Regions from separate parts of the Homo sapiens genome. Here region 2 is linked to region 1. Evidence: fine-mapped expression QTL. A gene starts in region 1. The other region holds a variant in brackets. All regions are shown on one strand. Distances are between the middles of the regions.

The links. PIP is the estimated chance that this variant, and not a neighbour inherited with it, causes the effect.
Region 2: its variant is fine-mapped to the expression of CDHR3 in whole blood (TOPMed, PIP 0.93).

What each region holds. Positions count from the first base shown.
Region 1 is chr7:105,953,296-105,969,473 of GRCh38, reverse strand. CDHR3 (cadherin related family member 3) reads right to left here and starts at 6,210. Exons shown (of 19, transcript NM_152750.5): 1 at 6,110-6,210. The coding sequence starts at 6,155. RefSeq lists a silencer at 5,877-6,171 and enhancers at 5,754-6,705, 6,706-7,657, 12,758-13,257, 13,258-13,759.
Region 2 is chr7:105,862,780-105,878,957 of GRCh38, reverse strand. It overlaps ATXN7L1 (ataxin 7 like 1), which reads left to right and starts at 2,359. Exons shown (of 12, transcript NM_020725.2): 1 at 2,359-2,580; 2 at 3,078-3,146. The coding sequence starts at 2,400. RefSeq lists a silencer at 2,107-2,316. The variant A/G (reference allele first, on the strand shown) is at 7,121.

The sequences.
Region 1 (16,178 bases):
AGCTGCTACAAACCATTCAGAAACTCCTAGGACCCACGGTTACAACGAAACACTTTTTTTTTTTTTTTTTTTTTTTGAGACGGAGTCTCGCTGTCGCCCAGGCTGGAGTGCAGTGGCGCAATCTCGGCTCACTGCAGGCTCCGCCCCCTGGGGTTCACGCCATTCTCCTGCCTCAGCCTCCCGAGTAGCTGGGACTACAGGCGCCCGCCACCTCGCCCGGCTAATTTTTTTTTGTATTTTTAGTAGAGACGGGGTTTCACCGTGTTAGCCAGGATGGTCTCGATCTCCTGACCTCGTGATCCGCCCGCCTCGGCCTCCCAAAGTGCTGGGATTACAGGCGTGAGCCACCACGCCCGGCCCACTTTTTTTATTTTTATTTTTATTTTGAGACGGAGTCTCGCTCTGTCCCCCGGGCTGGAGTGCAGTGGCGCGATCTCTGCTCACTGCAAGCTCCGCCTCCCGGGTACATGCCATTCTCCTGCCTCAGCCTCCCTAGTAGCTGGGACTACAGGTGCCCGCCACCACGCCTGGCTAACTTTTTGTATTTTTAGTAGAGACTGGGTTTCACCGTGTTAGCCAGGATGATCTCAATTTCCTGACCTCATGATCTGCCCGTCTCAGCCTCCCAAAGTGCTGGGATTACAGGCGTGAGCCACCGCACCTAGCCAAAGCAACACTATTAATCAGCATGCTTCATGCCTTGACTAGGGGTCAGTGTGGTTCACGAACTTCAGCAGAAAAATTCAGGCTAATATCAGGCCTATGGAAACTTATTCTCACAGCACAGATGCCACATAAGAAAATGCATATGCTCGGCCAGGCACAGTGGCTCAACCTGTAATCCCAGCACTCTGGGAGGCCGAACCAGGTGGATCACCTGAGGTCCGGAGTTTGAGACTAGCCTGGCCGACATGGTGAAACCCCACCTCTATTAAAAATACAAAAATTAGCAGTGTGTGGTGGCAGCTGCCTGTAATCCCAGCTACTTGGGAGGCTGAGGCAGGAGAATCACTTGAACTGGGAGGTGGAGGTTGTAGTGAGCCCAGATCACGCCACTGCACTCCAGCCTGGGCAACAAAGCAAGACTCCATCTCAAAAAAATAAAAAATAAAAAAAAGAAAGAAAGAAAGAAAAGAAAATGCATATGCTCAGTAAACTATAAAGCATTGTCAAATGTTGTTTCAACATATGCAACTTTTTCCTATTTCTTTAATTTCCACAATATATACCTCTTCCTGAATGAGATGTTCACCCACCCCCTTTTTTGGGAGGAACAAGGAACAATCCAGGCCAAGCAAGATTAACAGAAAAGAGCCCTTTATAGGACACAGAAGGAAAGGTGATTCAACTAGTGATTCTGTACATTATATTAGGTCGGTGTAAAAGTAATTGTGGTTTTTCCCTAGAAGAAAACCTAGGCAATACCATTCAGGACATAGGCATGGGCAAGGACTTCATGTCTAAAACACCAAAAGCAATGGCAACATAAGGCAAAATTGTCAAATCGGTTCTAATTAAACTAAAGAGCTTCTGCACAGCAAAAGAAACTACCATCAGAGTCAACAGGCAACCTACAGAATAGGAGAAAAATTTTGCAATCTACCCATCTGACAAAGGGCTAATATCCAGAATCTACAAAGAACTAAAACAAATTTACAAGAAAAAATCAAACAACTCCATCAAAAAGTGGGTGAAGGATATGAACAGACACTTCTCAAAAGAAGACATTTATGCAGCCAACAGACACATGAAAAAATGCTCATTATCACTGGCCATCAGAGAAATGCAAATCAAAACCACAATGAGATACCATCTTACACCAGTTAGAATGGTGATCATTAAAAAGTCAGGAAACAACAGGTGCTGGAGAGGATGCAGAGAAATAGGAACGCTTTTACGCTGTTGGTGGGACTGTAAACTAGTTCAACCATTGTGGAAGTCAGTGTGGCGATTCCTCAAGGATCTAGAACTAGAAATACCATTGGACCCAGCCATCCCATTACTGGGTTATACCCAAAGGATTATAAATCATGCTGCTATAAAGACACATACACATGTATGTTTATTGTGGCACTATTCACAATAGCAAAGACTTGGAACCAACCCAAATGTCCATCAATGATAGACTGGATTAAGAAAATGTGGCACATATACACCATGGAATACTATGCAGCCATAAAAAAGGATGAGTTCATGTCCTTTGCAGGGACATGGATGAAGCTGGAAACCATCATTCTTAGCAAACTATCGCAAGGACAAAAAAACCAAACACTGCACGTTCTCACTCATAAGTGGGAAGTGAACAATGAGAACACTTGGACACAGGAAGGGGAACATCACACACTGGGGCCTGTCATGGGGTGAGGGGAAGGAGGAGGGATAGCATTAGGAGATATACCTAATGTAAATGATGAGTTAATGAGTGCAGCACACCAACATGGCACATGTATACATATGTAACAAACCTGAACATTGTGCACCTGTACCCTAGGACTTAAAGTATAATAATAAAAAAAAAAAAGTAATTGTGGTTTTTACCATTACTTTCAATGGCAAAAACCAAGATTAATTTTGCACCAGCTAGGTCATAACTGGCAAGAAACAGACGTGTTTATCTTAGAGCATCACTATGGGGTGGGCCTGAGAAAGGCTTGTTTCTTTCAAATCTCTTCCAACTACATGGAGGCGAAAGTGGATGGATTCCAGTGACTGCCTGACTGCTTGCACTGGGGGTGAGGTTGCCATGGGCAAGGAAGAGCTGAGAGAAGGGACTGTCTTTTGTTCTTCTGAGGTGACTCTGAACAGGAAAGTGACATGACGGAAAAAGTAGAAACCTCTTGCAACACTCTTTGGGCCTGATACATAGGGTTAATTGGCTGACAGAAAGACTTTCTAGAAATGGATTGCATCTTCCAGCCTTTTCATATGATGAGAGCATTAAGAAGCATTTACATTTTAATTACCAAGGAGAATAAGAAACTCAGTCTTGGGCCTTTGTTTGATTTGCCAACACTGGCTAGCAGAGAACCACGCACAGATGATGGGCTGAAGAAAGCTGTGATTGCCTCTTGCCCAGAGCTTGCGGACAAACTCAGTTGGATGGGTTTGGTACCTTTTCATGTCCATGTGAATCTTCTGGCTCCCAAGGATCCCTTCTTTCATTAAATACCCTGGCATTTTTCATTTCCAGGAGGGTAATACAAAAGCTGGTTCCTTGGATGCTTCTTCAAAACATAGACAGCTTCCATGTGCAGTGGATTTAAAAATACCAAGGGTCCTTCTCTATGTCCTTCATCTTCTGGGACTCACATGTGATCCTTTGGGACTGATGGAGCCAGATGACTGCTTTGTCTCAACTCTTTCCACTGGGGCAGTTGAAAGTTTTGTCTAGTTTATATTCTTGTAGAGCCTCCCTTTGTAAGCTGTTGGTGGAATAGGCACTATAGCTTCACAAAGGGAAACTCATCTTCATAGGAGGTGGAAAGGACAGAAGTGAATTTAAATGTCAATATCAAGCAGGAAGAAGATCTAAAGCTCTACATTTGGGGTGTATCAGTAAATGTGGGGAAAAAACCATACCAGACTCAAAAAGTATAAAAATAAAAACAGCAAATATGTATTGGATATCCTCTATATATGTGGCACACAGGGACAATGAGCAATAAGATATATGAAATCTGTTATTGCAGGGCTGACATTCTAGTTGAGGAGGCAGAAATGGCCATATAACAGATGAATTACAGTATGATAGCTCATGCTACTTTTGGCTGAGCACTGAATCTGCATTAGGTGCTGGACTGAACTCTTTGCAGGCAGTCCATGTGCAGGCAAGAGGAGCTCCAGGGTGCAACAGCAGGAGCACTCCCCAGGAGCTAGGTCAATCCAGGAAGACTCCATGGGGGGGGGTGGGGCTTGAGTTGGGCCTTGAAGGAAGCATAGGAGTTAGAACACATGAAAGGAAAGAGGATACTCTATGTTACTTTATTTATTTACTTATTTTGAGATGGAGTCTCACTCTGTCGCCCAGGCTGGAGTGCAATGGCGCAATCTCAGCTCACTGCAACCTCCGCCTCCTGGGTTCAAGCGATTCTCCTGCCTCAGCCTCCTGAGTAGCTAGGATTATAGGCACCCGTCTTCATGCTCTGCTAATTTTTTACTGTATGTTACTTTATTTGAGATTATTATAGTGATGCCTGCTTCCAACAGCCTGAAGGGGTGCTGATGTGGCTGCCCCGCTAGAAGCCTCTGTAGCCCAGGTGTTGGAGTGTGAGGGTAATGACCAGGTTCTCAGACTCACAAAAGAAACAGTTTGTGTCACAGTAGCCCTTCCAAAAACAAGATTTGACCTAAGGGATTCTATTGTGTGTTTTAAATAAGAAATCTCAAGTATTTCTTGCAAACCTTTGTGATCTATCCCTTTCACACTTCTGATAAAATTCCAAATGATAGTGTTCAGTATAAGAAATTGGGTTCTTCCTAACCTCACTCTTTCCCCAGTGACAATAAAAGTCACCTCGACTCAAATGATTGTGGCCCTAAAAGCCCATATTTCTGGGGGAAATCTGAAATGTTTACTTCAAGTGACAGTCTGAACTGCTCATGGCCCACTTCACATTCACAGGTCATCCTGCCCTCTGCTGAGTTGAAAAGCCCAAGATAGAAGAGGGCTCAATATTAGGAAACCCAGTTATTTATTTATCTTATTAGCAGATCGAAGAGGAAAATTAAATGGTCATTTTCATAGATCTTGAAAAAGCGTTTGATTTAAAAATCCATTTTTATTTAGAAATAAGTACTTGAATATTCTTACATTTAGTTTTATTATATTTTTATTTAGAAATAAATACTGTAATATTCTTATATTAATAAGAATAAAAGCCACCTCCTTAACATATAAAACATTTCTCTCTCACACCAAAAGTTAACATCATGCTTAATGGGAAACAAGACAGGAATTTACACTCTTGTCATTATTTAATAATGGTCAGAATGTCCAGGCCTGGCAGTTAGATAAGAAAAAAATAGGAGCTATAGACATAGGAGAAGAAGAATATAAATGTTCATTTTTTCAAACGTGGAAAATTCATGAGAATCACCTGAAAAACCATGCCAAATAATAAGATAATTTGTTAACAGATTTCCATACATCATACAATAATCAGTTGAAAGATGTAGGGAAGAAGAGATTCCATTTACAAATGTAAAAAAAGAAAAAGTAAAAGAACTAGAAATAACCATAATAAGAATGTACCAAATCTATATGAAGGAAACCTCAAAATACTCCTAAGAAAAACAAATGAAGACTCAAACAAGTATCTAGAACCCTGTTCTTGGATTAGGAAGACTCAAGATCATAAATAATACTCACTAACATTTACTAAGCATTTACTATGTACTCAGACACTCTTCTAAGTATTTTACTACATAACTTGTCAAAGATGTAAATTATCCCTAAATTAATTTGCAAATTTAACATAAATTCAATATATTATGCATATACTACCTATTCAGAAATAAAATTTAATTTTAAAATCTCAATTTCAATAATCCAAGCTGACATTAAAAAGATCATCTAAGATTCTTGATGCCCTTGAATGAGGAAGAGAGAGTAAAATGATCACTAGCTTGAGTCTTTGACCCTTCTATCAGAAGGTGTTTTCTTTGCTCAAGAGGAAGACACCCCCTCAGTAACTCACTTTCCTCAAAGGATCACTTGTCAACCTCAAGTTGCCCTACGAGCCTCCAGAAAAGGGCCAGAATCTCCACAAAGACTCACTTGACATACTCACAAAGCTCTGCTATGAACACTATTTTCCCAACCTTAAATCTCAGGAGGACTACCAAATGCAGGCCAGTTAACCCAAGAGGGAAAGTGAAGTCTACACCAACATAGATTAGATTAGGCTCTTTAAGCATCTCTCTTTTCCAGGGCTCCTACCTGGTCCCCCAGGGCTCCCTGGAGCGGCATCACCTCATTCATTACTGCAGCTAAGCCCTCAATTGAACAAGCCTCCCAGGGGCAATTTCCTTTCTGGGGGACATTGTCATTCAATGGTATTATGCAGACCAAGTAGGCAAGCAAGGTTCCAAAGCAAAATTGAGTTCCTACCTGACATGGCACCCAGGAGAGCCAGGAGAATGATTGCTTCCTGCATACTTGATGGTCACAACTGTGCGTGCTTCCAGCACATTAGCCACAGCCTGAATCCCGTCTCACACCCAAAGTTTATTCCAGAAGCCACTCAGCTTCCCCTCCTGGTTTTGTTGCCATGCAAGAAATCAAACAGAGGCTTTGGCGGTAGCCAAGGGAGACTCCAAACACCACAGGACTGTTTGTTCTTTGATTACCTGCTTCTGTGACTGCATAGCACCCAAGAGACCAACCAGCCAGTCCTGGTCAGCTCAGAGTTTACCTTAAAAGTCCACACTCACCAAGTGTCTCAACCAAGAGCTCCAAAAGAGAAGTCAAAAGAGAAAACCGAGACACGGAGACCACACTAAGAGCTGGACGTGCGTAGTCCACCCATGATGGTCTCGGTCGCCCTGTAGCCAGGCTTGTGGTCATTTCCAGAAACAGGGGTGGGAAGTGGGAGTTTTTCTGCTGTCCTGAATCAATGAGTAGGATTCAGACTTGGGAATTAACTGGCACTCGTTCTAAAGACAAGATCTGAGAGCTGGGAGCAGACCCCTCCTCGAGGCTGACTTGAGGTGGAAGACTGCCCTCTGACTCCACCCCCCACCACCGCCCCTCCAGCCCTCGAAGAAGGCTGTGAAGGAAGGTTACTGGAGTGGTGAGGCTTCTGCCCACTGGGGAGTGATGCAGGTCTTGCCCTTCACGATGCCTTTCTGTTCCACACAGCCCTGTGCCAGGGCACAAGATGTGGCATGTGAACAAACGCGGGCTGGGGTCTAGTCTCCACTGAGAAGGAGCAACAGCAGAGCAGAGAGAGAACGGCCGAGCAGTGGCCTGTCCCCTTGACATGGTGCAGTAAGAGAAGTAGTGGGCACAGTGGAAGGCAGCTGGGCTTGGACCACCTCTCCCATTCCTCTGCCAGCTAGGGGAGGAGAGGCCAGCAGCCCAAGGCTGGGGGCAGGAATGCAGTGAAGAAGGTGGGGAGTTGAGTCAGAGCCTCCCAGTCTGGACGAGACCCCACAGGCGCTCTGAAAACTACACATGCCCCACAGGTGAACCAGCTTTTAGCACCTGCTACACGGAGGTCACCAACGAGGGATAGAGGGAGACAGTGTTATGGAACCAAACTGGGTCCACTCACCCTGTGCAGTAAAACCGGATATCCACACCGAGGTTTTTGCAGCAATAGAAAGGAAGGCATTTATTTGCAAGGGTGCCAAGCAAGAAGGGCTCAGAGAGTGAGGGGTTTGACCCAGGCTGCGCCACCTGCCAGTGTCCCCTGTGTCCCCTGCGTCCCAAACCTAGGGTGGCAAGGCTGCCCTTCCCTTCCACCACATCCAAACATTTGACAAGCCCTTTCCAGCCTCCAGGGCCTGCTGCCGGGCCCCTTCCCATGCTTGTTGCTACTGCCCTGGCTTAAGGTCCTTGCCTCTGGCCTGGGCTCTGGCCCGCAGCACATCCTACAGAAACTTAGGTTAATTTCCCCAAAGTACAATTTTGGTCATTTACTTTCCTGCTCAAAATAACAAGAACCTTTCCCTTAAGAAAAGTTGACTTTTCTTGTGTAAAGCATGAAGGAAAGGTAGTAAGATTAGGAAAGCTAGTCGATAGGTCTCTGTTCGAAGCACATAGATAGTAACAACAACAACAAAACAAAAGGGAGTGTTGCTGTGTCACCTTTGGCAATTTACCTAACCTTTCAGAATCTCAGTTCCACTCACTTCTGTAAATCAGGGAAAATAATACCTGCTACACAGTATCATCGCAAGCGATACACAAGAGAAAGAAGTGAAAGAAACTGGCCCATACTATGTGTTTTAAAAATACTTTTTTTTTTTTTTTTTTTTTTTTTGGAGACAGGATCTCACTGTCACTCTGTCTCCCAGGCTAGAGTGTAGCAGCGCGATCATAGCTCATTACAGCCTCAATCTCCTGGACTCAAGCAATCCGCCCACCTCAGCCTCTGGAGCAGCTGGGACCACAGGCGTGCACCACCACACCAGGCTAATTAAAAAAATTTTTTTTTTAGAGAGGACGTCTCCCTATGTTGCCCAAACTGGTCTCAAACTTCTGGGCTCAAGCGATTCTCCCACCTCCGCCTCCCGAAGTGTTGATATTACAGGCATGTGCCACACTATTTTTTCCTAATAGGACCCTGGCAAGGGCTGAAACATAGTAGGTACTCAATATATATTGGCCAAATAAAAAGAAAAATAAACAACAGTTGCCAAGCTACCAATTCTCACCTCTCAGTTTTTCCTGTCATGTGAGATACTGTAAATAATCCATTTCATTATGCATAATTCAAGCTGAAGCGATGGCTCAGATTAAGTTATGGAAAACGTCAGAATGATTAAACTTTTGTATTAAAGAAACTCACATCTGTTTAGTTTTCAGCCTGACTGCACAGCATTTTTCATGTTACCCTGTTTTTACCAGGAGATCGTGCCTCCCCTTCCTTTCCCTCCCTGGTTCTAGGGAGCAAAAGGGTCATCTTTTGGAATTCATTGTGGGTGTTTTCTCCTGTAATTACAGCTTCTGTTTCCAGCCCCGAGGTTGTTTCTGCCATTGCCGCGGGCTGCTGCCCATGTGTCAATTCCCATCTCCCTCCGAAAGCACCTAGTCCTAGCACCAGACACCCAACTGGGCCTGAATCGCACCAAGGCTGAATGGGACCTTGCGGTCCTTGGCTCTCCTGTCCCTGACTGCCAGCATGCTGAGCTGTCCTGGATCCACCAAGGTCTCAGCCAGATGGGATGAATGGGTTCCTCAGGCAGGGTCGGAATCTCTAGGGCAGGCACCCCTCCAGCTTCACATGAGACCCAGGAGCCTTCTCCTACATGCTGTCTGGCTCAGCAGTGATTCAGGCCCTTAAAGTATTTCAGGGGACTTCCCTGGGAACTAGCTACTGTAAGTGTCTAATTTGCTAGCAAAGGAGTTGTGTTCCAAACATTTTTTGACTTGGAACTTGGAACTCAATTACCCTTACATAATCTATAACATATAGTCATGCACCGCATAATGACAACATTTCCATCAACCATGGACTTCGTACACAATGGTGGTCCCATAGATGATAATGGAGCTGAAACATTACTATCAACTAGTGACGTTGTAGCTGTTGTAACATCATAGTGCAACATGTTACTCATGTGTCTGGGGAGATACTGGTGGAACAAACCTACTGCACTGATAGTTATGCAAAAGTCTAGCGCATACGGTTATGTACAGTACATAATACTTATAATGATAATAAATGTATGCTGTCATTTTAGAGTATACTCCTACTTATTTAAAAAAATAAAGCTGGACAGGCACCGTGGCTCACGCCTGTAATCCCAGCACTTTGGGAGGCTGAGGCGGGTGGATCACAAGATCAGGAGTTCAAGACCCACCTGGCCAACATGGTGAAACCCCGTCTCTACTAAAAATATAAGTTAGCTGGGCATGGTGGTGAGCACCTGTAGTCCCAGCTACTTGGGAGGCTGAGGCAGGAGAATCTCTTGAACTAGGGAGGCAGAGGTTGTAGTGAGCCGAGATCGCGCCATTGCACTCTAGCCTTGGTGACAGAGTGAGACTCCATCTCAAAAAAAAAAAAAAAAAAAAAAAAAAAAGCTAATTGTAGAACAGCCTCTGGCAGGCCCTTAGGAGGTATCCAGAGGAAGGCATTGTTATCATAGAAGATGGCAGCTCCATGTGTGTTATTGCCCCTGAAGACCTTCCAGTGGGACAAGATGTGGAGGTGGAAGACATGACATTGATGATCCTGACCCTGTGCAGGTCTAGACTAATGTGTGTGTTTGTGTCTTCATTTTTAACAAAAAAGGTTTGCAAGTTAAAAAAAAATAGAAAAATAGTATAGATTAAGGCTATAAAGAAAGAAAATATTTTTGTACAGCTGTGCAATGTATTTTAAGCTGTTATTACAACAGAGTCAAAAGTTTTAAAAATATAAAAGTTTGTAAAAATGTTACAGTAAGATAAGGTTAATTTATTATTGAAGAAAGAAAAATTGAAAAATAAATGGAGTGGACTAAGTTTACAAACTCTACAGTAGTGTACAGTAATGTCCTAGGCCTTACATTCACTCACCACTCACTCACTCACCTACAGCAACTTCCAGTCCTGCAAGCTCCATTCATGTTAAGTGTCCTATAGAGGTGTACCATTTTAAAAAATCATTTATGCAGTTTTTTGTTGTTGTTTTTTTTTTTTGACGGAGTCTCGCACTGTCACCTGGACTGGAGTGCAATGGCACGATCTCAGCTCACTGCAACCTCCGCCTCCTGGGTTCAAGCTATTCTCCTGCCTCAGCCTCCCAAGTAGCTGGGATTACAGGCACCCGCCACCATGTCCAGCTAGTTTTTTGTATTTTTAGTAGAGAGGGGATTTCACTATGTTGGCCAGGCTGGTCTCAAACTCCTGACCTCGTGATCCACCCACCTCGGCCTCCCAAAGTGCTGGGATTACAGACGTGAGCCATCGTGCCCGGCCTTATGCAGTATTTTTTAATGTACTTTTTCTATGTTTACATATACAAATACATACCATCGAGTTACAATTGCCTACAGTATTCAGTACAGTAACATGCTGTACAGGTTTGTAGCCCAGGAGCAATAAACTATACCATACAGCCCAGGTGTGTAATAGGCTATACCATCGAGGTTTGTGTAAGTGCACTCTATGATGTTCGCACAATGATGAAATTGCCTAGTATTGCATTTCTCAGAATGTATCCCCATCATTAACTAACTGTACTTGTCTGTATTTTAAATATTACAGCCTTAAGATGAGACACAGAAGTACTGTGCAATGGCTGGGCTCTGTTAGCAGCTCCACGAGCATTGGTGGGCTGGCCTGCAAGCCTCATCACCTTTATATCTGCGGGGCAGTTCTGTTCATGGTCCGTTTGTTCAGGACTGGAACTATGGGCTTCCAGGAATCCAAAACCTAGAACAGAACACCCAGGTTCCATCATTCAAGCACCTCCCCCATCTCAGGCCTCCCTCAGGAAAGGCACTCAGGGTAGACCCATGCTCACAGCAATGGTGCCATGCAGATGCACAAAGCTGCTTGCAAGAATAGAAACACATCCCTCCCCGTGTCTTCTTTGTGGGCCACTGTCCTAGCACACGCACTGCTTTAGCACCACATCTCATGGATCTTTTATACATCTGTCTCCATGCAGCCTTGGCAAGTTTTCCAGGACAGAGAAGCTCTTATGCTTCTTTGCACTCCAATTGCTTCACATTTAACACTGTGCCAGATGCATAGTAAGTGCTCAAAAAACATGGAATTACTGATCTTACTTTATACTTCCTTGCCTCGTGCCATGCTCTCCTCTCACACCCACCCCAAACATCGACCCAGTGAGAGCCCCCCCCGCCCCCGCCAGCTCTTGCAGGGATAGAAATAAAGAAGTGCCACAGCCCTTCTCACTTCTAGAACCCCGGAGCTGCATCCCCTGACTGGCCTTGAGGACCATGGGAGGGGCTCCTCTGAAGCCAAGGCTCTCAGGACCCACTGGTAGGGTCCTTTTCCTGGCTTCACAGGTGGAAGAGTGACTGAGAAGACGTCCTTGGGGCTCAGCCCCACCTGACTCCAGGGCACCTGCTGTGACTGTGGGCTAGGCTGCCTGCTCTCTGGGCTCACGTCCCCAGATAATTCTTTTTTTTTTCTTTAAACAGTTTGTGATATAATTCACATACCTTACAATGCACCCAGTTAAAGTGTACAATTCAGTGATTTTTAGTATATTCATAGAGTTGTGCAACCATCACCATAATCAATTTTATAACATTTTCATCCCCCCCAAAGAAAAACCTCTTCAATCCTTAGCAGTTACTCTCAATTTTCCTCTAACTCTCGCCCCCAACCCTAGCAACCACTAATCTACTTTCTATCTCTATAGATTTCCTTATTCTGGGCATTTCATATGAATAGAATCATACAATATGTGGCCTTTTTAAAATTTTTTTTTTTTTTTTGAGATGGAGTCTCACTCCATCACCCAGGCTGGAGTGCAGTGGCGTGATCTCAGCTCATTGCAACCTCTGCCTCCCAGGTTCAAGTGATTTTCCTGCCTCAGCCTACCAAATAGGTGGGATTACAGGCGCGTGCGACCATGCCAGGCTAATTTTTGTATTATCAGTAGAGGCAGGGTTTTGCCATGTTGGCCAGGCTGGTCTCGAACTCCTGACCTCAGGTGATCCGCCTGCCTTGGCCTCCCAAAGTGCTGGGATTAGAGGCAGGAGCCAGTGCACCCAGCAATATGTGGCCTTTTGTACTGGCTTCTTTTACTTGCATAATGTTCTTTGGGTTCGTGTATTTTGTTGTATGGCTCAATACTTCATTCCTTTTTATTGCTGAATAATATTGGGTTGGTGCAAAAGTCATTGCGGTTTTTGCCATTACTTTTAATTACTTTTGCACCAACCCAATATTATTCCGTTGTATGGATAGACCACAATTTAATTTTCTTATTAATCAGTTGATGGACATGTGGGTTATTTCAACATTTTGGCTATTAAAATAATGCTGCTATGAACATTTGTGTACAAGTTTTTGCACGACATAGGTTTTTATTTCTCTTAGGGAAATACCTAGAAGTGTAATTACCAGGTCATATGGTGATTCTACCAGGTCATTCTTGTGGGCAATTGTCTAACTGCTTTGAAGCCAGCTCCTTCTCCAGCATCCTTCATTGGCTTCCTGGAGCCCCCTACCCCAAGCTATGGGTCTCCTCCTACTTACCCTCTCTGCCACTTTGTTCAAACATCTTCATGCCAGCTGATTCCTTCTTCCCCCTTCTCCCTTTAGGTGGCATTTATTTATTCACTCAAGAAATATTGAATACCTACTGTGTGTCAAGCCCTGTTGTGCATGCTAAGGTTATCGCAGAGAACTGTTTTGTTCTCTGAAGAAAATGCCTGGCCACAAGCAACAGATTCTGTAGAAGCACCCCTCCTTCCATCCATCCAGTCAGCCAGCTGTGGCTCTGGTTGAAGCTCACCGCATGGCAGCACTGAGAGGTGACAGCATGCTGGCATCCCTCGCTCGCTCGCTCTCGGCGCCTCCTCTGCCTGGACGCCCACTCTGGCGGCACTTGAGGAGCGCTTCAGCCTGCCGCTGCACTGTGGGAGCCCCTTCCTGGGCTGGCTGAGGCCAGAGCCGGCTCCCTCAGCTTGAGGGGAAGTGTGGAGGGAGAGACGCCGGCGGGAACCGGGACGGCGCGTGGCGCTTGCGGGCCAGCGCTAGTTCCAGGTGGGTGTGGGCTCGGCGGGCCCCGCACTCGGAGCAGTCCGCCGGCTCCGGGCAGTGAGCGGCTTAGCACCTGGGCCAGCGGCTGCTGTGCTCGACTTCTCGCCGGGCCTTAGCTGCCTCCCTGCGGGGCAGGGCTCAGGACCTGCAGCCTGCCATGCCTGAGCCTACCCCGCCGCCGTGGGCTCCTGCGCAGCCTGAGCCTCCCCGACCAGCGCCACCCCCTGCTCCACGGCGCCCAGTCCCATCGACCACCCAACGGCTGAAGCGTGCGGGCGCACAGCGCGGGACTGGCAGGCAGCTCCACCTGCGGCCGGGTGCTGGATCCACTGGGTGAAGCCAGCTGGACTCCTGAGTCTGGTGGGGACTTGGAGAATCTTTATGTCTAGCTAGGGGATTGTAAATACACCAGTCAGCACCCTGTGTCTAGCTCAGGGTTTGTGAATACACCAATCGACACTGTATCTAGTTACTCTGGTGGGGACTTGGAGAACCTTTGTGTGGACACTCTGTATCTAGCTAATCTAGTGGGGACGTGGAGAACTTTTGTGTGTAGCTCAGGGATTGTAAATGCACCAATCAGCACCCTGTCAAAACGGACCAATCAGCTCTCTGTAAAATGGACCAATCAGCTCTCTGTAAAATAGACCAATCAGCAGGATGTGGGGGGGTGGGCGGGGACAGATAAGAGAATAAAAGCAGGCTGCTGGAGCCAGCAGTGGTAACTCGCTTGGGTCGCCTTCCACGTTGTGGATGGTTTGTTCTTTTGCTTTTTGCAATTAGTCTTGCTTCTGCTCACTTTTTTGGTCCTTGCTACCTTTATGAGCTGTAACACTCACCGTGAAGGTCTGCAGCTTCGCTCCTGAGCCAGCGAGACCACGAACCCACCAGAAGAAAGAAACTCCGAACACATCTGAACATCTGGAGGAACAAACTGTGGGCACACCGCCTTTAAGAACTGTAACACTCACCACGAGGGTCCACGGTTTCATTCTTGAAGTCAGTGAGACCAAGAACCCACCAATTCTGGACACACCACTGTACTTGCATCAGGATGGAAGGTCTGCTATGACATGGTTCTCCCATCAAGGAACTCGGGCCCTAGCCCAGAGACAAACCAGTAAGCCCAGGATTATAACCAAGTAATCTAGGCATGCCTCCACTGAACTCCAGGCATGCCTGAGGCTGTGGGGTATGAGAGAGTGGAGAGAAAGAATCAAATGTAGGTCAAGAGTGAAGCTGTCAGGGAAGGTTTCTAAGGGCAGGAGTGAGCTGAAGAAATGAAGGGTAAAGGCAAAAGCAGTTAACAATGTAGAGGTATGAAATAGTATAGTTCATCCAATGGCATTATGCCAGCTGATTTATCTTTAGGGAAGCTCAGTTTTTAAGAAAAAAAAATTTATTTTTTGAATAGGTAATACATGTACACAATGCAAAATTCTAAATATTCAAAAGAGTAAACAATGAAAAACATGTCTTCCTATCTCCTTTCCCCAGAAGCTGTTTCCCTCCTCGGAGACAGCCATTATTGTTACAGCCTTGTGATCCTTCTAGAAACAGTCTATGTGCATACAAACATATACTAAATAGCATAGTCTCTGCTTTATGGAAACATAGTCTGTGCTTCATGATACTGATGGAAGCATATTATATCCTCTCTACTTTACTTGGTTTTTCCTCTTACTATAGTTGGGACATTGTAACATATCAGCGCATACATAGCACCATTCTTTTTAGTAACTGCATAATATCCATTGTATTGATGTGCCACGTATTTATCAAGTCTGCTATTGATGGGGGTTTGCTTTGTTATCAATTTTTTCCTATTACAAGTAATGCTGCAATAAACGTCTTTGAATCTATATAATATCATACAAGAGTATATTTGTAGACTAAATTTTTAAAAATGGACTTGAATGGGAGAAAACATTAACTTTTTGACAGACATTGCCAAAATACTCCTCAAAGAAGTTGTGCCAATTTATACTCCTACGATTGACATGTGAGAATGTGGGAGAATCCCCCAAATCCTCACCAATATAGTGTTATCAAACATTTTACTTTTTGCCAATCTGTTAGGTTAAAAATATTGTATCTCATTTCAATCTGCATTTCCTTCTCATGAGTAAAATTGGGCATTTCTACCATTTTTCTTCTGGGTTGTTGGTATATTTTCTACTGGTTTGTAGGAAATCTTGGTATGTTGAGGAATTTAGTACTTTATCTGTAATATGCAGTGCAAATATTATTTCCTCTTTATCATTTGATTTTTGACTTTGTTTCTAGGGATTTCTGCCATAAAATTTTTAAAACATTTTTATATAGTCAAATGTATCACCTTGTGTTCTATGGCTCTACTTTTTGCTCACTGCTTAGAAAGGATTCTCTCTGAGATAATAATAAATACTTTCATATTTTCTTCTAATACTTTTATGGTTTTGTTTTCAAATATAAGCTTCTGATTTTCTTGGAATTATTCTGAAATGGGAAAAGTTCCTTGTCCCCATTGCAGGGCGTGCGATGAGGGTGCGGCTCACTTCTTCAGTGCCCTGCTGCTCAAACCTCTAGGGGAGCATATAGACCAGATGTGCAGGCTGTGGGGCTCCAACGCCACGACAGTGTCTAGGGGTGAATGTTTACAGCTGAAGCCCCAGGCAAAGTGTGATATAGTGTGCACTTTTAGTTTAGCCATCCGTAGGTGGCCTGTGTTAGCTCACTTAGACCCCTGCCTTATCACAAGGGCAGATGGCTTTCTGTTTCCCGGGGTTCTGGCCTTGGTGTACCG
Region 2 (16,178 bases), 91 kb after region 1:
TCTAAATCTAGCCCAACAGCACACCCTCTGATCAGGTGCTCTCTTCACAGTCTCACACCTGTCTCCTCTTCTCTACCTGCATAGCACCACCAAAGTTCAGGCTTTCATCTCTTCACACCATGAATATTGCAGCACTACTTTTCTAACCAGGCTCCGTACTCCAATCTTTCTAACTCACACTTTTAACTTATCTTTATGGTACAGAAAGCCCTTCAGTAGCTCCCCATTGTCAAACAAAATCCAGACTCTTTAGGCTGCCGTTTGGTGCCTTCCATAATTTGATCCAGGCCTGGGTATCAAAATGCATCACCCCCAAGCCCCCAGTAACAATTCTCCATCCCAGGCAAACCATGCTCAACACCCAAACACACCATGTTTATACTCAGCTTGAAGCCTCTGCTAATACCATTATTCCCCCTCCCTCCGCAAGACCAGTCTTCACCTTACCATTACAAATCTTTGGCAATTTCCAAGATGCAGAGCAGAGCCCATCTTCTGTTACGCAGTTTCTGTTCACTCCTAACTAGATTTCGGTTCCTCTATGAACTGGCACAGCTGAGAGACCACCCCACCCACTGCACAGGCCAGTCCCTGTGTACCTGCCTGTTTTCCCAAGGAATCGGTAAGTTTCACAACTTCCTTCTTCCAGAGACCACCAGACTGCATCTCTGTGAGGGTGAGGATGGGTCTCACTCATCTTTCCCTCCTGACAGGAGGGCACAGCTGTTCCATGACAGGCAATATTGGTTGACTTAAGATGGACAGATGGAAGGAAGGAAGGAAGGAAGGAAATGTCAAGCCCAGGGTCTAGCATATAACAAGAGGTCAACAAGTAATACATATTTGTTAACACCACCAATTCTTACAATGGGAATTCTTCACCCAGCGACACCTTAGCTATGTAGGAGCCCTTCGAAAGAGAGCAAAGGCAAATGCAGTTTATCTGAGTCTGACACAAACAAGCCGACTCACACAAACATCACAACTAAAGGCAAATCCGCAGCTCCTCCTTCATCGCCCATCCTAACACTGGCTTAGCGATACAGGGTGCCAAGCTCAGGGAAATTATTAGATGGTTCAGCCAGGGCAGAACTCAGTCAGTACAAAGCAACTTCCAATCAGTGCGCTTCAGCTGTGACAACTTGGGAAACAGCAGTGGTGAGAGCTAAAAGGGTGCTGGCGAAAGAGAAAAAAAAATATGTCGCTTGTGGGGTGAGGGCGGTGTCCATATAGTTTAGATAATTCTAGTAAACAAAAGGATTTGTTAAAAAGAAGTAACAGAAGACTTTTTAAAGCCTTCTTTAAAGGGTGAAAATCTCAACTAAAGCACCCAACGTCCAAAATCCAGAGGAAATCTAGCGCTCCCTTTCTAGCTGGCTAGAGCAGTTAAGCCTGAAGTGAATTCTCCCAGGAATCAGATTCCTGGCCAAAGGTTGCCTGCGCAAACCCGGGCCACCCTCGTCTCACGGCAGGGAGCGCTGGAAACGGCTCAGGGGCTAGGCCCGTTAGCGTCGTCTTCCAAGAGCCGTAAATTCGCCCTCCCGCTCTGCTGACCCTGGAGCAAAGTCCATGCAGTGGTTCTCTGAGAGCCGGAGATACGCACCGCGCGGGGAACCCGGGGGTCCGGGGGCCCTAACTTTTGAGTTTTGCACGCCCCGCAGCCTGAGATGGGAAGGTAGCTCGTAGCGCTCCAAACTCACCTGCGTTTCAGAACGACATCTACCCACTGGTTTCAGCTCCTAGAGCAACAACTGCAGAATCTCCATGGTCCAAAGTCCTCCAGGAAAGAGAAGAAAGGGGTGACGGGGGTGAGGGCTGGGAGGCGAGGTCACCAGGGTCCCTTCCCTGGCTCGGGTGGGGGTGGGGGGCGCAACCCCTCACGGCTCCTCCCCACCAAGCCGTCGGGACCCCAGCGGGGGCGCCTCGCGTTGGGCGACAGGGACGCGGGGAGAGAGCGACAAGCTGGAAGCAAGGGCTGCCTGCAAAACTTTCGGTCCTCCAGCGGCAACTCTGCGGGAAAGACCACCCTTCCTTCGGCCCCGCGTCGGGCCTATCCCCGTGTGCCCCGACCCCTGCGCCCCAGGCTTGGGCGGCGCCGCTGCATCCCGGCTGCCGGGCGCGCTGCAGCCTTCGCTCTCCCGCACGCGGCGCTCGCCCGTCCGCGCTGCCCCTCCCCGGCAGGCGGGCGGCCCCGGCGGGCGGGCGGGCGCGGACTGCAGGTGCCTCTCTGCTGCCCCTGGCGGCCGCGGGCGCGCGAGCCCCACCGAGCCGGCTCCGGGAGCCCGAGCGCCCGCCCCTCCTCCGCTCCCTCTCCCCTCCTCCTCCGCCGCCCTCCTCCCATCCCGCCCTTCCTCCCTCCCTCCCCCTTTCAGAACACTCAATGTCGGAACGTTCCGAAGATGACGTCGGAGCGTTCTCGAATCCCGTGTCTCTCGGCTGCTGCTGCCGAAGGAACAGGGAAAAAGCAACAAGAAGGAAGAGCAATGGCGACACTGGATCGCAAAGTGCCCAGTCCGGAGGCGTTTCTGGGCAAACCCTGGTCCTCCTGGATCGACGCCGCCAAATTACACTGCTCCGACAGTAAGAACCCCACCACCTCCTCCTCCTTTTATTATCCTGTAACCTTTCCATTCACCTAGAGCCACTGGGAAAAAGTGTGTGTGTGAGAGAGAGAGTGGCCCCCGGTGTCCTCCATGCTTCTCCCTCTCTCTCTAAATAAATACACACAGAGACAGATCATCAATGCACAGGGAGAGGCCCGGCTGCCAGGGCTGTCTGTCTGTCTGTGCCCGGCTCCCCGTGGCAGCCCGCGGGGTGGGCTCGCAGCCCCACGGTGTTGTCCGTTTAAAAGGCTACTTTGTTGCTGCTTGCATAGTTTTTTGGGTACCTATCTGGGCCAGGTAGATGGAAACCCAGACTTGGGAGAAAATGTTGCATTGTCAATTTTTGAAAGAATTTCATATACAGTATTTATATCGATCTGTTTGCAAATAAACACTCTCCCTCCCCCCTTGACTTTGGCTTTTTTCCCCCCTTTTTTCCTTATTTTCTGTTTTCCTTTTCTTTTTCATCTGCAGATGTAGATTTAGAAGAGGCTGGAAAAGAGGGTGGAAAAAGCAGGGAGGTTATGAGGCTTAATAAAGAAGGTAAGTGGAGCTACTGGCATTTTAGTGTTAGCATGTGTGGCAGAATCTTCACAGGATTTCGAATATAATGTGAATTGTTCTGCTGGGTACAGAGTGACTAAGGCTTGTCAAAAATTGAGCACGCCCAGGTGACTACTGCTTCATGTTAACTTCTTTCAAAGTATAAATACAACTGGGGGGGGGGTAAAGGGGGGTGAGACTGTTGAAGGCAGAAGTTTACTGCACTTCAGTTGGACTCCACGTTTGAACCTTCTGATGCATATCTGCCATTCTCCTTGGGAGCATCATTGCCAAATGGTGGGGCGTTAAAATTTCTGAAATGAAGAGTGGAGTTCCCTTCACAAGCATCCCAGCCTTTCTCGTGGGTGAATGCACAACAGCTTAATGAACCCCACATGGTCAGTCATTCCAGCAGCTACTTCTCCACTCACCACTGAAAACCATTGTACATGGCAAACCTTTGCAGCAAGTTACATTTGGCCCACTTTGCATTTGGTCACAGATTGTTATGTGGCAAGCAGGGTTAGGAGCATCTGTATGTGCAGCCCCTCAGCAGTCATCATCTCTCTTTTCCCAGCATGGAAATACGGTACCTGAAATGGGACACACTGAGTAGATAGGTCATCCCAGACCAAGATATGCAAGAGAAGCCACAACCTGCTGCAATTGGGCATCAAACACATATGGTCGTCATAAATAAATCATATCCTGTTCTCATTTGCAAGCCTGCCGTATGTAACTCTGGCCTATGGGCTTCAAATGGAGCAACTCCGGGGGCCACTTGCTGCTAAGCAAATAGGTGGATTCATTTGAATTGTGATTCACTAACTGATGTCTTATAAACATAATTGGCTGAAATTGGGGGTGGGAAGATGGCACAAGGGGACAGAAGAGGTTGGTGGTATTGAAAGAGTTCAGACATAAGTAGGCCATAGGTGCATTGGTCATCCCAAATGAATGGAGAAAAGGCCATTAGATGCCAAAGAATGGTCCCCCTCATAAAAAGGGATGTCACCCTGGAAGGCAGCTGAAGCCTGCGTGGAAAGATGGAACTCATTTTATGAATCAACACTTCAGATGGTTGGTTTTCTGTGCCCAATCATTTCCTGACCATCCACTGAGAGGAAATTTTGTGCTTCAGAAAAAATAACATGAAGGTTAAAATGCGTACATATTCAAGGACAGTTCCCTAGCATAATGTTTCTGCTAATTAAGCACTTTGGGAACAAAACATTATTCTAAAGATGTTTGCTTCTAAATATCTTAGTGTGATCTTGACAGGTGTCTTCAGGATGCACGAGGGATTGATGTCAAGTGGACTTCTTACAAGTGGCAGCTTATTTGTGTTAAATGTTCATGTGTGTTGGCAGTGGGAAGCATCACTAGAGATTATTTTTCTTCACACACAAACTCTTGAGATCTCTAAGTGCTTGCAAGACCCAGTTATCAGGCTACTGGCAACGTGTCCATAAAAGATGATGAGGCTGTGGAAATCTTTAAATTAAAGTTGAGTAAAGGTCATGGTATAGCACAGGATTGTCACCTCTCAGGTCTGGGTGATGCGTTATGACTATCACACACAAAACTCACATCCTTTCCCCCCAGTCCCTGTTTCTATTTCAGAAGACTGTTGTTCTCAGATTCTCTTTGCCTCATGAGAAACAGATTTTTTTTTTTTTTTTTTTTTTGATACGGATTCTCACTCTGTCGCCAGGCTGGAGTACAGTGGTACGATCTTGGCTCACTGCAACCTCCGCCTCCCGGGTTCAAGCGATTCTCCTGCCTCAGCCTCCTGCATAGCTGGAACTACAGGCACGTGCCACCACACCCAGTTAATTTTTGTATTTTTAGTAGAGACGGGGTTTCACCATGTTGGCCAGGATGGTCTTGATCTCTTGACCTCGTGATCTGCCCACTTGGCCTCCCGAAGTGCTGGAATTACAGGCATGAGCCACCGTGCCTGGCTGAGAAACGGATTCTTTTAAGAAAAAATGAAAAGCTCTCCTTTCCTCAGAAGTCACAGGTGGTACATCCCGCTTATTAGGTCCTTTGTCCTATAAAGGTACGAAGATTTAGCTCCTAATTATACATATTTGCATTAAGGACACCCACTGTTCAGTGTAACTTGAAATTGCTAACTTCACCAAAATAGCCATATATGGGCTGAAATCTCTTTGTTCACAGGCCTGGTGGAACAGACTTGGGTGAGCAATTCCTGATGGTCTTTCTGGTATATATGCATGCAGTTTTCTTTATAGATAAAATATCTATATACTGAATACGTATTCCCCCATGGTGAGAAATTGAAGGGTTGAGCTGAGACAGGGTGTTTATTTGGTTACCTGGATCTCCAGTAATGCTTGCCATGGGCCCTCTTTTTGGAGTGATCAACAAAGTCCTGGGACGGATACATGTTTGTGGATGGGTCACTGCAGGACACAAAGTAGCCTGTGTGTGGCTGTGTACCTGTGCTTATGAATGTATGTAGATTGTCCATGACACTGTTGGCTTTAAGCAGGTCTTGAGAAGAAATTCGGCTTTAATGGGAATGAATGAACAAAATACAGTTTAGAAATTCCAACTGGGAATTGAAGGGAAGTGGTTCCGATTTTTGTTGTTGTTGTTGTTTTGTTTTGTTTTGTTTTGTTTTGTTTTTTTGAGACGGAGTCTTGCTCTGCCGCCCAGGCTGGAGTGCAGTGGCGCAATCTCAGCTCACTGCAAGCTCCGCCTCCCGGGTTCACACCCTTCTCCTGCCTCAACCTCCCAAGTAGCTGGGATTACAGGCGCCCGCCACCAAGCCCGGCTGATTTTTTGAATTTTTAGTAGAGATGGGGTTTCACCGTGTTAGCCAGGATGGTCTCGATCTCCTGACCTCGTGATCCACCCGCCTCGGCCTCCCAAAGTGCTGGGATTACAGGCATGAGCCACCGTGCCCGGCGGGTGGTTCCGATTTTGATGTTTTTTTTTTTTTGTGGTAAAATATACATAGCATAAAATTTATCATTTTAACCATTTTGAGTATACAATTCAGTGGCACTAAGTACTTTCATAATATTACACAACTATCATCACTTTCCATTTCCCAAATTTTCCATCATCCCAGTCAGAAACTCTGTACCCATTATGCAATCACTCCCCATTCCCCATTCCTCTCAGCCCTGGTAACCACTGTTCTACTTTCTGTCTCTATGAAGTTGCCTATTCTGATACCTCATATAAGTGGAGTCATACAATCTGTATCCTTTTGTATCTGGTTTATTTCACTTCGCATCTCTTCATAGCTCATCCATGTTGTAGCATGGATCAGTACTTCATTCCTTTTTAAGGCTGAATAATATTTCATTGTGTATATATACTACGTTTTGTTATCCACTTATCTGTTGGTGGACATTTGGGTTGTTTCCATATTTTGGCCATTTTGAGTAATGCCACTATGAACATTGGTGTCATATATTTTTAATAGACTAAACTCAGGAAGAGAAGTTAGGCTGGAAATGTGAAATAAGAATTATTTTGGTTTGGCCAGGCATGGTGGCTCACGCCTGTAATCCCAACACTTTGGGAGGCTGGGGTGGGTGGATCAGGAGGTCAGGAGATCGAGACCATCCTGGCTAACATGGTGAAACCCCATCTCTACTAAAAATACAAAAAATTAGCCGGGCGTGGTGGCACGCACCTGTAGTCCCAGCTACTTGGGAGGCTGAGGCAGGAGAATGGCGTGAACCCGGGAGGCGGAGCTTGCAGTGAGCCAAGATCGCACCACTGCACTCCAGCCTGGGCGAAAGAGCGAGACTCCAGCTCAAAAAAAAAAAAAAATTATTTTGGTTTCTACCTCTATCTGGCCACAACTTCAGAAGACACAGCAAGGACTTGCAGACTTTTTGAATAACTTGATTACTGTAATACAGTTCCCCATTCCTCACCCCTTTAAACTTTCTTTCAATTCTTTCCATTTCTTTCAGTTCTCCACCTAT[A/G]AAGTATGAAATGTTAACTGGATGCTTTGAAATGTCTGTAATAAAGTTTTCATGTCATTGTTATTATTTCATCTAAAATTAGCTAAATTATAGCTAAGAGGAATTTGCCAATTTTTTTTTTTTTTTTGAGACAGAATCTCGCTCTTGTTGCCCAGGCTGGAGTGCAATGGCATGATCTTGGCTCACTGCAACCTCCACCTCGTGGGTTCAAGCGATTCTCCTTTCTCAGCCTCCCAAGTAGCTGGGAGTCCAGGCATGCGCCACCACGCCCGGCTAATTTTGTATATTTAGTAGAGATGGGTTTCACCATGTTAGCCAGGCTGGTCTCGAACTCCAGACCTCAGGTGATCTGCCTGCCTCAGCATCCCAAAGTGCTGGGATTACAGGCATGAGCCACTGCACCTGGCCCCAAATACTTTTGAATGTTGTCATCACCTGGGTTCAGAAGGCGTTGCTAGATCCATGGGTGGATATGCTTAGATGGGCTTATATCCAGGACAACCTGGGTACTGGAAGGAGCAGGATAGCACTTTGAGTCAGCTTCCTACATTTTGATCTATGCCCTTTGGAAGTCGTTTCACTTCTCTTGGCCTATTTGCCCATATTTAAAGAAAGGGGGGTGGAACTGAATGTCCTCTAAGGTCCCTTTGAGACCTCTGAACCCAAGCTTCTCTATTGAATGTACCTTCCTTTGAGATGCAGTTATAGCAGGCAAACTGTTTCTAAAGAAACTTAAAAAAAAAAAAAAAAAAACCCAAGCCCTCACATTAAAAATATCTTAAACTACTTCAAAAATAACTGGGTTTATTTTCTCAATTTATAACTTCTTGGTGGCAAAAATCACTGCATCTCATACACAAGCAATATTCTGCTGCAAATCATTTGTGAATGGTATTTGGCCTTCAGCATTCCGAGAAAAGTGGGGTTCTGAGTCCAAAACCCAATGTGTTCCCCTAGTGAGGAATGATTTGACCCCAGTCAGCTTGGATCAGTCAGGCATTCAGATTTCCTGAGAGGAGGACTCCCAGAAACCTTATTAGCCTAATCTGTGAAAGGTGTTTATGAGAGAAAATTCCAAGGACGGCCATTCTTCTGTGCTAACCTTTTCAAATAATTTCCTCCTCAGCTTTTTCAAGCTAATTAGGGAAAAGCTCTCAGTGATTTAGAAAGATGTTCCCCTTGCCTCACCTGAATTTTTTTTTAAAGAATACCAATTCATAGATAAGGAATAGGGTTCCTGTGCCTCATAAGTGTCCCTAACTATAAGACAGAAAAGAATAAGGTTGTTGTGATGATTAAATGAGATAATACAAAAGGGCTTAGCACATAGTAAGTGCTTAATGAATGTTGGCTTTTACTATTATTATCATTATTAATGAAGCTAGCTCTAGAAAACTTTATTCTAATTAGGATTTTAAACTAATCTGTGATGAAAAGAAAAGATACGTAGCAGAAACTTTATTTTTAGAGTAAACCATTTTGTTGTAATTTTATGACACTAATGATTTTTTAAAGAAACAATTTCTATGGATATCAAATTTTTTTTTTTTTTTTTTGAAATGGAGTCTCCCTCTGTCACCCAGGCTGGAGTGCAGTGGTGCGATCTCAGCTCACTGCGACCTCCACCTCCCAGGTTGAAGTGATTCTCCTGCCTCAGGCTCCCGAGTAGCTGGGACTACAGGTACCCACCACCACACCTGGCTAATTTTTTTGTATTTTTAGTAGAGGCTGGGTTTCACCGTGTTAACCAGTATGGTCTCGATCTCCTAACTTTGTGATCCGCCCGCCTCGGCCTCCCAAAGTGCTGGGATTACAGGCATGAGCCACCGCACCCGGCCAGATATCAATGTTTTTAATAGAGTGCAGTTAAGTGATCATTGATAAGTTTTATCAATAGCTGTCGAATAATACTTAGGCTGTATATGGCCTATGGCTAAGAAGAGTTTATACAAAGTTCTTTCTAGGGACTGGGAGATCTAAAAAACTTTTTTCAATGATCGATAAGTTGTTTTATTTTATCACTGAGAAAAAAAAAAGTCCTGAATAGATTCCTGTTTGGGTCTCTTGGAAGCCTACACTTGTCACTTTGAAAACTTGCCTGTGTTTTAACGTTCCCACATGTTTTGATGTGATGTAGATAAACTGGTGGAAAGTTTCCAATTTGAAAATTGTGCTGGGGCCAGTAAGATATTGCTGTGACTATAAGAGTTTGCTGTTCTTCTGAGATGCTGGTGGAATTGGGCTGGAATATAGGAGGGTGCAGAGAACATAGGAGCATGTTCAGCTCAGGCTTAGGAGTCTTGCAGTTGTGGCTGGATGGGAGCAAATTGGAGAAGGTGGCAACTGACCTGGTTAAGAATGAAGTTTTCTTAGAATCCAAGCCAGAGAAGCCAGCAGCAGGCCATGGAGATTTATGGGAAACTGCGAACAGCTTCCCTTTATCATTATAGACAACTCTGTTATCTATGTTAATAGGAGATGGGAAGACACAAAGTCCACAGATTACACAGATAAACCTCATTTTTACCATTAATTTCAACTTCATTCCCCATTAAGCCTACCTTCCTCCCCTTTTGCTAACAAGCAGTAACATTTGTTCACTTTGGCGTTACATTATCATCTCTCTTATCTGGCCCAGCTTTTGGGATGGAAGGATGGGAGAGATGGAGCGGCTTAAAGGTGGTAGGGAGGAAAGATGAGACGGAGAAGGGAAGGGCTTGGAGACCTATAAGCTCTACAGGTGCAGCCCACTGATGGAGCAGGGGCATGCCACAACCAACACAACACAGATGAGAAAGGACATCCTGATCATCTAGTTTGGAAAATACAAAGCTTCCAAAATGAGTATTTCTTTATACATACAATTATTTCCTTGTGCCTGGGTTCCCGTGTGGAAGAAATGTGGCTCTGTCTACTTCCACAACAGGAAGCTAGAATGGACACACGGAAACACTGTATATGATAATTTGCCTTCTAAGTTGCCCTGTACCAGGGTCTCATCCTGTATCATTCTATGAGAATAATGTTTTTACTGCTAGAAGATGTAGACCATTACACACACATACACATTCATTTTAAAACTACTTATTTTTTTTAATAATGTTCATGTTACAAAATTCAAAAGGCTATCCAAGTGGAAAGTAAGTCTCCCTCCCACCCCATCCCCAGTTGCTTGTGTATTCTTCCAAAGATATTCTGTGTGCATTCAAGTAGATACATATATAATTTTGTCTTCTTGTTCTCACGTGAATGATAGAAACCTATAGTATTAGCTGATATCTTGCCATTTCCATTTATCTTAGAGAGCTGTCCATGTCAGTTCATGAGAAGTCGCCATGTTCTCTTTTGGTGCCTGCATAGTAGGGTAACAATTTAAGCCTCTGGGTGTCTTGCCAAGTTTTTAATACGCTCAACTGTTTCTCAGCCTCCCTTATGTGTTTGACCTGGAGGGAGCTCTCCTGACGTGCCAGAACTGGGCTAGACACCAGGGACACAGCAGTGAAAAACCACAACCCCTGCCTGCCCTCAGGGTGCTTCCAGCCTGGTGGCGAAAGTACAGGTAGACCGCGATGAGTGCTCTGATAGGGAAACTCAGGTGCTGCTGGAGGTCATGGTGGGGGGGCCTCACTGAGGTAGGGGCTCAGTGCCGGCCTCCCAGAGGAAATTTTATGTAAGCTAAAACCTGGAGGATACAGGAAGTTACCCATGTGTAGAGCTGGGCAGGACAGAGTTAGAGGAAACGACAGGGATAAAGGCCCAAGTGCCAGAGAATATAGACTGTTCTGAACCTAAAAAGTCCTCTTGCTGGAGTAAAGATAGCAAAGCACACAGTAGTATAATATTTCTCACCAGTGGCACCACTGATGGTTTGAGCCAGATGCTTCTTTTTGGGGGCGCTGTCCTGTGTATGGCAGGATGCTGAGCCGCATCTTGCGCCTCCACTTGCTAGATGCCAGCAGTGTCTCCCTCCCCTCCCCCAAGTTTAGACAACCAAAAATATCTCCGTACATTGCCAAATGTCCCAGGGGGACAAATCGCTCTGATAGAGAATCACTGGCTGGTGAGGCTGGAGAGGTAAGAACACAAGAAAAATAGACTAAGATACAGAAATATTCTGCCAATATCTGTCCATGTGTTAGGCCTTCAGCCCATGTAAGTCAGCCTTGTCGATTACTCAGCAGATATACCTGTACTGTGACTATCCCCTGGCGCTGAGCTACATTTGGGAGGATCTAAAGAGAGAGAAGCCTCGGTCCCCCAGGGAACCCTCCTCCCAAAGTTCCCAAGATGACTCTTCCAAACCTTGGAGTCCAGTCTGCAGTCACTGGTGACAATAGTGAGTTGCAGGTTCTAATTCTGGGTGGCCCAACCCTCCTTCACTGTGGGTGGAGGAGACCCAAAGCATCAATTCTGGTAATGATGGCATTTATTATACAGTGGCCCCCGATGTCAAAAGTACCACATCGCATTGGTGAAGCAGTAAGGATTTCAGTTTATATTTAAAGTCAGGCTGAAAATACAACTGGCGTTCTCTGCAGTTTGATTACCCACGGGATATGTCTGAAATGGGGATGCACATGACGGAAAGCAAAGTGGCTGCTTTCATGATTTCCATGTTAAGCCTGGGAAGGTACAAAGGGCAGGGGAGGGTCTGATTCCTGAGGCCTTCTGACCTGTGTGCCAGGTGGTCTGCAGCATCAGTTAAGACTGTGAGGCCATGTTGATGCTTTCAGCCGGCGGTTCCCAGGGGCCTGCCGTCTCTGCTGCAGAATTGATTTAGAAAAGTTAGGCAGATTTGTTTCTGTATGGTTTTCCGGGTTGGTTGCATTTATATCCTTCAGGTTAACGTTTCGTTTATGACATTTTGTTTCATTCATGACATATTTCAGAAGTAGGCATAAGATGGTAGTACTCAATGCAGTGAGACCTTGTCCTGGTCAAATCCCTCTTCTCTAAGGACCCCACACACTGAGGTGGCCCACTATTCACATCTGGAGACAGTGGTCACTGAGTGATTGCAATAATCAAACATAGCCGTAATGGAGAGGGAGAGCTTTAGCCAGTGGGTTCTACTTTTTCAGAATATTGTAGGAATGGCAAGGACTGACTTCTGTGTGTGACTGTCTCCTAAATCTCCCGGTCCAGTGTTCTGCTGATTACGTGCTCCCAGCTGATGCCGTTTGGCTGGCATTCTCTTACTCTCTCCTGTGGTAGAGCTCAGACTGCCAAATGGACCTGGATTTGGACCCTGAGGCGCTTGAACTAATGATGAAACCTCAGGAAATCCCTTCTTGCAAGTGGGCTGAGGCTACAGCGGAGCATCCTTAATATTCAGGGGCTAGACCTGGCTGCCCTAGTCGTCTATAAGTGAAGCTGGAATTCTGCTGTGGGGAAAGCAATGTTTTTATGGAGACACTTTATCCTTGTACCTGTGGTTTCTCAACACAATTCTGCTTGCCAATTTTAAGGGATCAAGTGCTTACAGAAGAAATGGAAACCAAATAAATACTCTCCAGGGCAGGACGAAGTGGCACCAGGTCACCATAATGGGGAAGATAAAAGTGAGTCGATGACAGGCTCTTTGAACACAGAAGCACTTACCGGTGTACCTGATTCTGTGATGCTAATTGTAAATCTGTGAACATTAATGGTGTAAGGATACCCTTAACTGTAGGGGGAGTGTGAGTTACGTGACCTTACCTCAAGGCATTGACAGGCCACAGAGTCCTGGGGTGGGGTGGGGACACAGGACACCCAGTCCGATGATATTAACCACAGGTGAGTTCAGCATTCCAGGGGTATGGAAGATGCTGGAGACATGGTCCCAGTTTGGTTATATCAGACCAAGGTGATAGTCCAGTTCTCAAAAAGTATATGAGTCACAAAAGGACAAATACTCTGTGATTCCATGTATAATGAAGTTCCTAGAGTAGTCAGATTCATACAGACAGCGAGTAGAATGGTGGGTATTCAGGGGCTGGGGGAGGGGAAACGGAGAGTTAGTGTTGCCATGATACAGAGTTTCAGTTGGGGAAGATGCAAAAGTTCTGGAGATGGACTGTGGTGATGGTTGTACAACATTGTGAATATACTTAATGTCACAGAACTAACCGTACACATAAAAAATGGTGAAAATGGCCCGGGTGCAGTGGCTCACGCCTGTAATCCCAGCACTTTGGGAGGCCAAGGTGGGCAGATCACGAGGTCAGGAGATCGATACCATCCTGGCTAACACGGTGAAACCCCATCTCTACTCAAAATACAAAAAATTAGCTGGGTATGGTGGCACGTGCCTGTAGTCCCAGCTGCTCAGGAGGCTGAGGCAGGAGAATCACTTGAACCCGGGAGGCGGAGGTTGCAGTGAGCTGAGATCGCGCCACTGCACCCCAGCCTGGGCAACACAGCGAGACTCTGTCTCAAAAAAAAAAAAAAAGTTAAAATGGTAAATTTTATGTTATGTGTATTTTACCACACACAAAAAGGTTCATTGGCATTGCAGGCTTGGGAGTTTAATGGAGCATTATTTAAATCTTGACCATTTATTGGCTGTGTATTAAATTAAGCCTCAATTTCTACTTTTCTTTTCCAGAGTAGGAATAATAGTACCTATCAGAATTGTTGTGGAAATAAATGAGATGCTATCTGGTATAAAGTAGGTACTCAGTAATGGAAGCCTTTGTTGTGATGATCGTTGTTTTTACCGGGCACTTGGGTCTTCGCCTTTGTCTTAAGAGCTGCCACTTCCAGGGGACAGACTGCGTTCTTACTGCTCCGGGGGATGCCCGGGGCTCACCAGGCATCTTTTGTCAACTTGTATGTCTCCAGTTCTTTAAGGATGCCCCGAATAAAGACAAAGGGATTGGACTGGTGTCCCTGTACTGTTAGTTTCAAGAGTGAATCTGGGGCTGGGCACTGTGGCTCATGCCTGTAATCCCAGCACTTTGGGAGGCCCAGGCGGGTGGATCATGAGGTCAGGAGTTCGAGACCAGCCTGGCCAATGTGGTGAAACCCCATCTCTACTAAAAAAAATACAAAAATTAGCCAGGTATGGTGGCATGTGCTTGTAGTCCTAGCTGCTTGGGAGGCTGAGGCAGAAGAATTGCTTGAATTCGGGAGGCGGAGGTTGCAGTGAGCCGAGATTGCACCACTGCACTCCAGCCTGGGGGACAGAGTGACACTCCGTCTCAAAAAAAAGAAAAAAAAAAAACGAATGAATCTGTTTCAATGTTTTGCAAAGTGTGTTCATTCTGGAGACCCTGCTGTGTTGTCCTGTAGGGTACTTCGTGCCCCCGGCCCCAGGCTGGTCATACTAAAACGAAACAACCGGGAGTGAAGCACAGGAACCAGGAATGTCCTTTTTTTTTTTTTTTTTTTTTTTTTTGAGACAGGGCCTCTCTCTGCCACCCAGGCTGGAGTGCAGTGGCATGATCAAGCTCACTGCAGCGTCGATCTCCAGGGCTCAAGCGATCCTTCTACCTCAGACTCCTAGGTAGCTAGGACTACAGGCGTGTGCTGCCATGCCTGCCTAATTTTTTTTGACTTTTAGTAGAGACAAGGTCTTGCTATATTCCCCAGGCTGGTCTCAAACTCCTGAGCCCAGGTGATCCTCCCACCTCGGCCTCTCAAAGTTCTGGGATTACAGGTGTGAGCCACCACACCTGACCAGGAACGTGCATTTTAAACAGGCTCCTCAGGTGGCTCTGTTGTTTCCTGAACTTTGAGAACTACTGTTTATTGGTTGAGAGAAGTGGTTCTCAACCCTGCCTACCTTGAAAATTCCTTGGGAAGCTTTTTAAAAGCAAATATGCCAGGACCACCCACAGAGATTCTGATTCTATAGATCCAGGTTCAGGGGTTCTAGGGAGCTGCTTATGTATTTCCTTTTGGAGTTTTTTGTTTGTGTTTTAAATTTATTTTTCTGGTACCTTTTGGGCTAAACACAGCCCAACTTATGTGTTTTTTTGTTTGTTTTGTTTTGTTTTTAAGTAACAATCCTAGCTGTCTTTTATTGGGCATTAACTAGGTGCCAGGCACAGGGCTAAATGTGCATGTTCGCATTTAATCCTCATGACCACCCTGTGAGGCAAATCCTGTTATCAACCCTATTTCAGAGATTGGGAAGCTGAGGCTCAGAGAGGTCAAGTGATTTACCCAAGGTAACATAGCTGGGGAATAGTAGAGCTGCCCTGAACCCCAAGGCAGGCTGATTCCAGAGACTGTGCTCTAAGCACTGTGTCCTGATGTCTGTCATCCTAGGAGCAGGGTTAGGACTAAGGGGAAGCAAGCAGGCACCCAGGACACCTGTTTAAGGAGGGGCTCACGTGGGCTTCTGCAAGTGCGGAGTGAGTGCCCCTTAAGTGTTGCACCTGGGCACCTGACTTCACTCATCCTCTCACCATCCTTGGCCAAGAGAGCTTGTTCTTTAAGCAAAATGGCAAGGCTGAACTACCTTTCATTCCCCCTTGACTGTGTAAGCCAGTGGCCTCCTGATAGGGCCCTGGGTCTCCCCATCAGGGAAACGCTCTCTCATTCCAAGGCCCCAGCTTTGGGGCCTCTGTGGCCAGAGTCCTGGCCTCAGGGAAATCACAGGAGCTAATGCAAACTGTGTTCCTTTTTGGGAGAAGGTGTTAGCAAAGATGGTTGCCAAGCAACTCCAGGGGCGTCTATCTAGAGTGATGATTTCTCTCTTTTTCCTCCTTTTGAACATCTTCTAGGCCGCTGTTCAGTTTCCCTCATGGCATTGGGATTGTTAGTAATTTCATGAAGGGTGTGCTCTCTAGGATGATGGAGCGGAGATCACTCTTCAATACTGCCACATTAGAGGTGTCCTTTTGATGGTGATATGCCTGCTAAGTGGGTGTGAAAGTCCTTTACCTTCTTCAGCCACAGAGATGCCCTAGTTGTCACTGTCTCTGAGAGGGCAGTGACAAAGAGGATCCTTTGGATTGGAGTGGCTGGGAAAGGCACAGAATGCATCTCCCACATGAGGACAGGGCGATGTGGCAACATTTACTTCCCGTGACTTTGGATTTCACCCATTCTCCATTAACTGGGACAT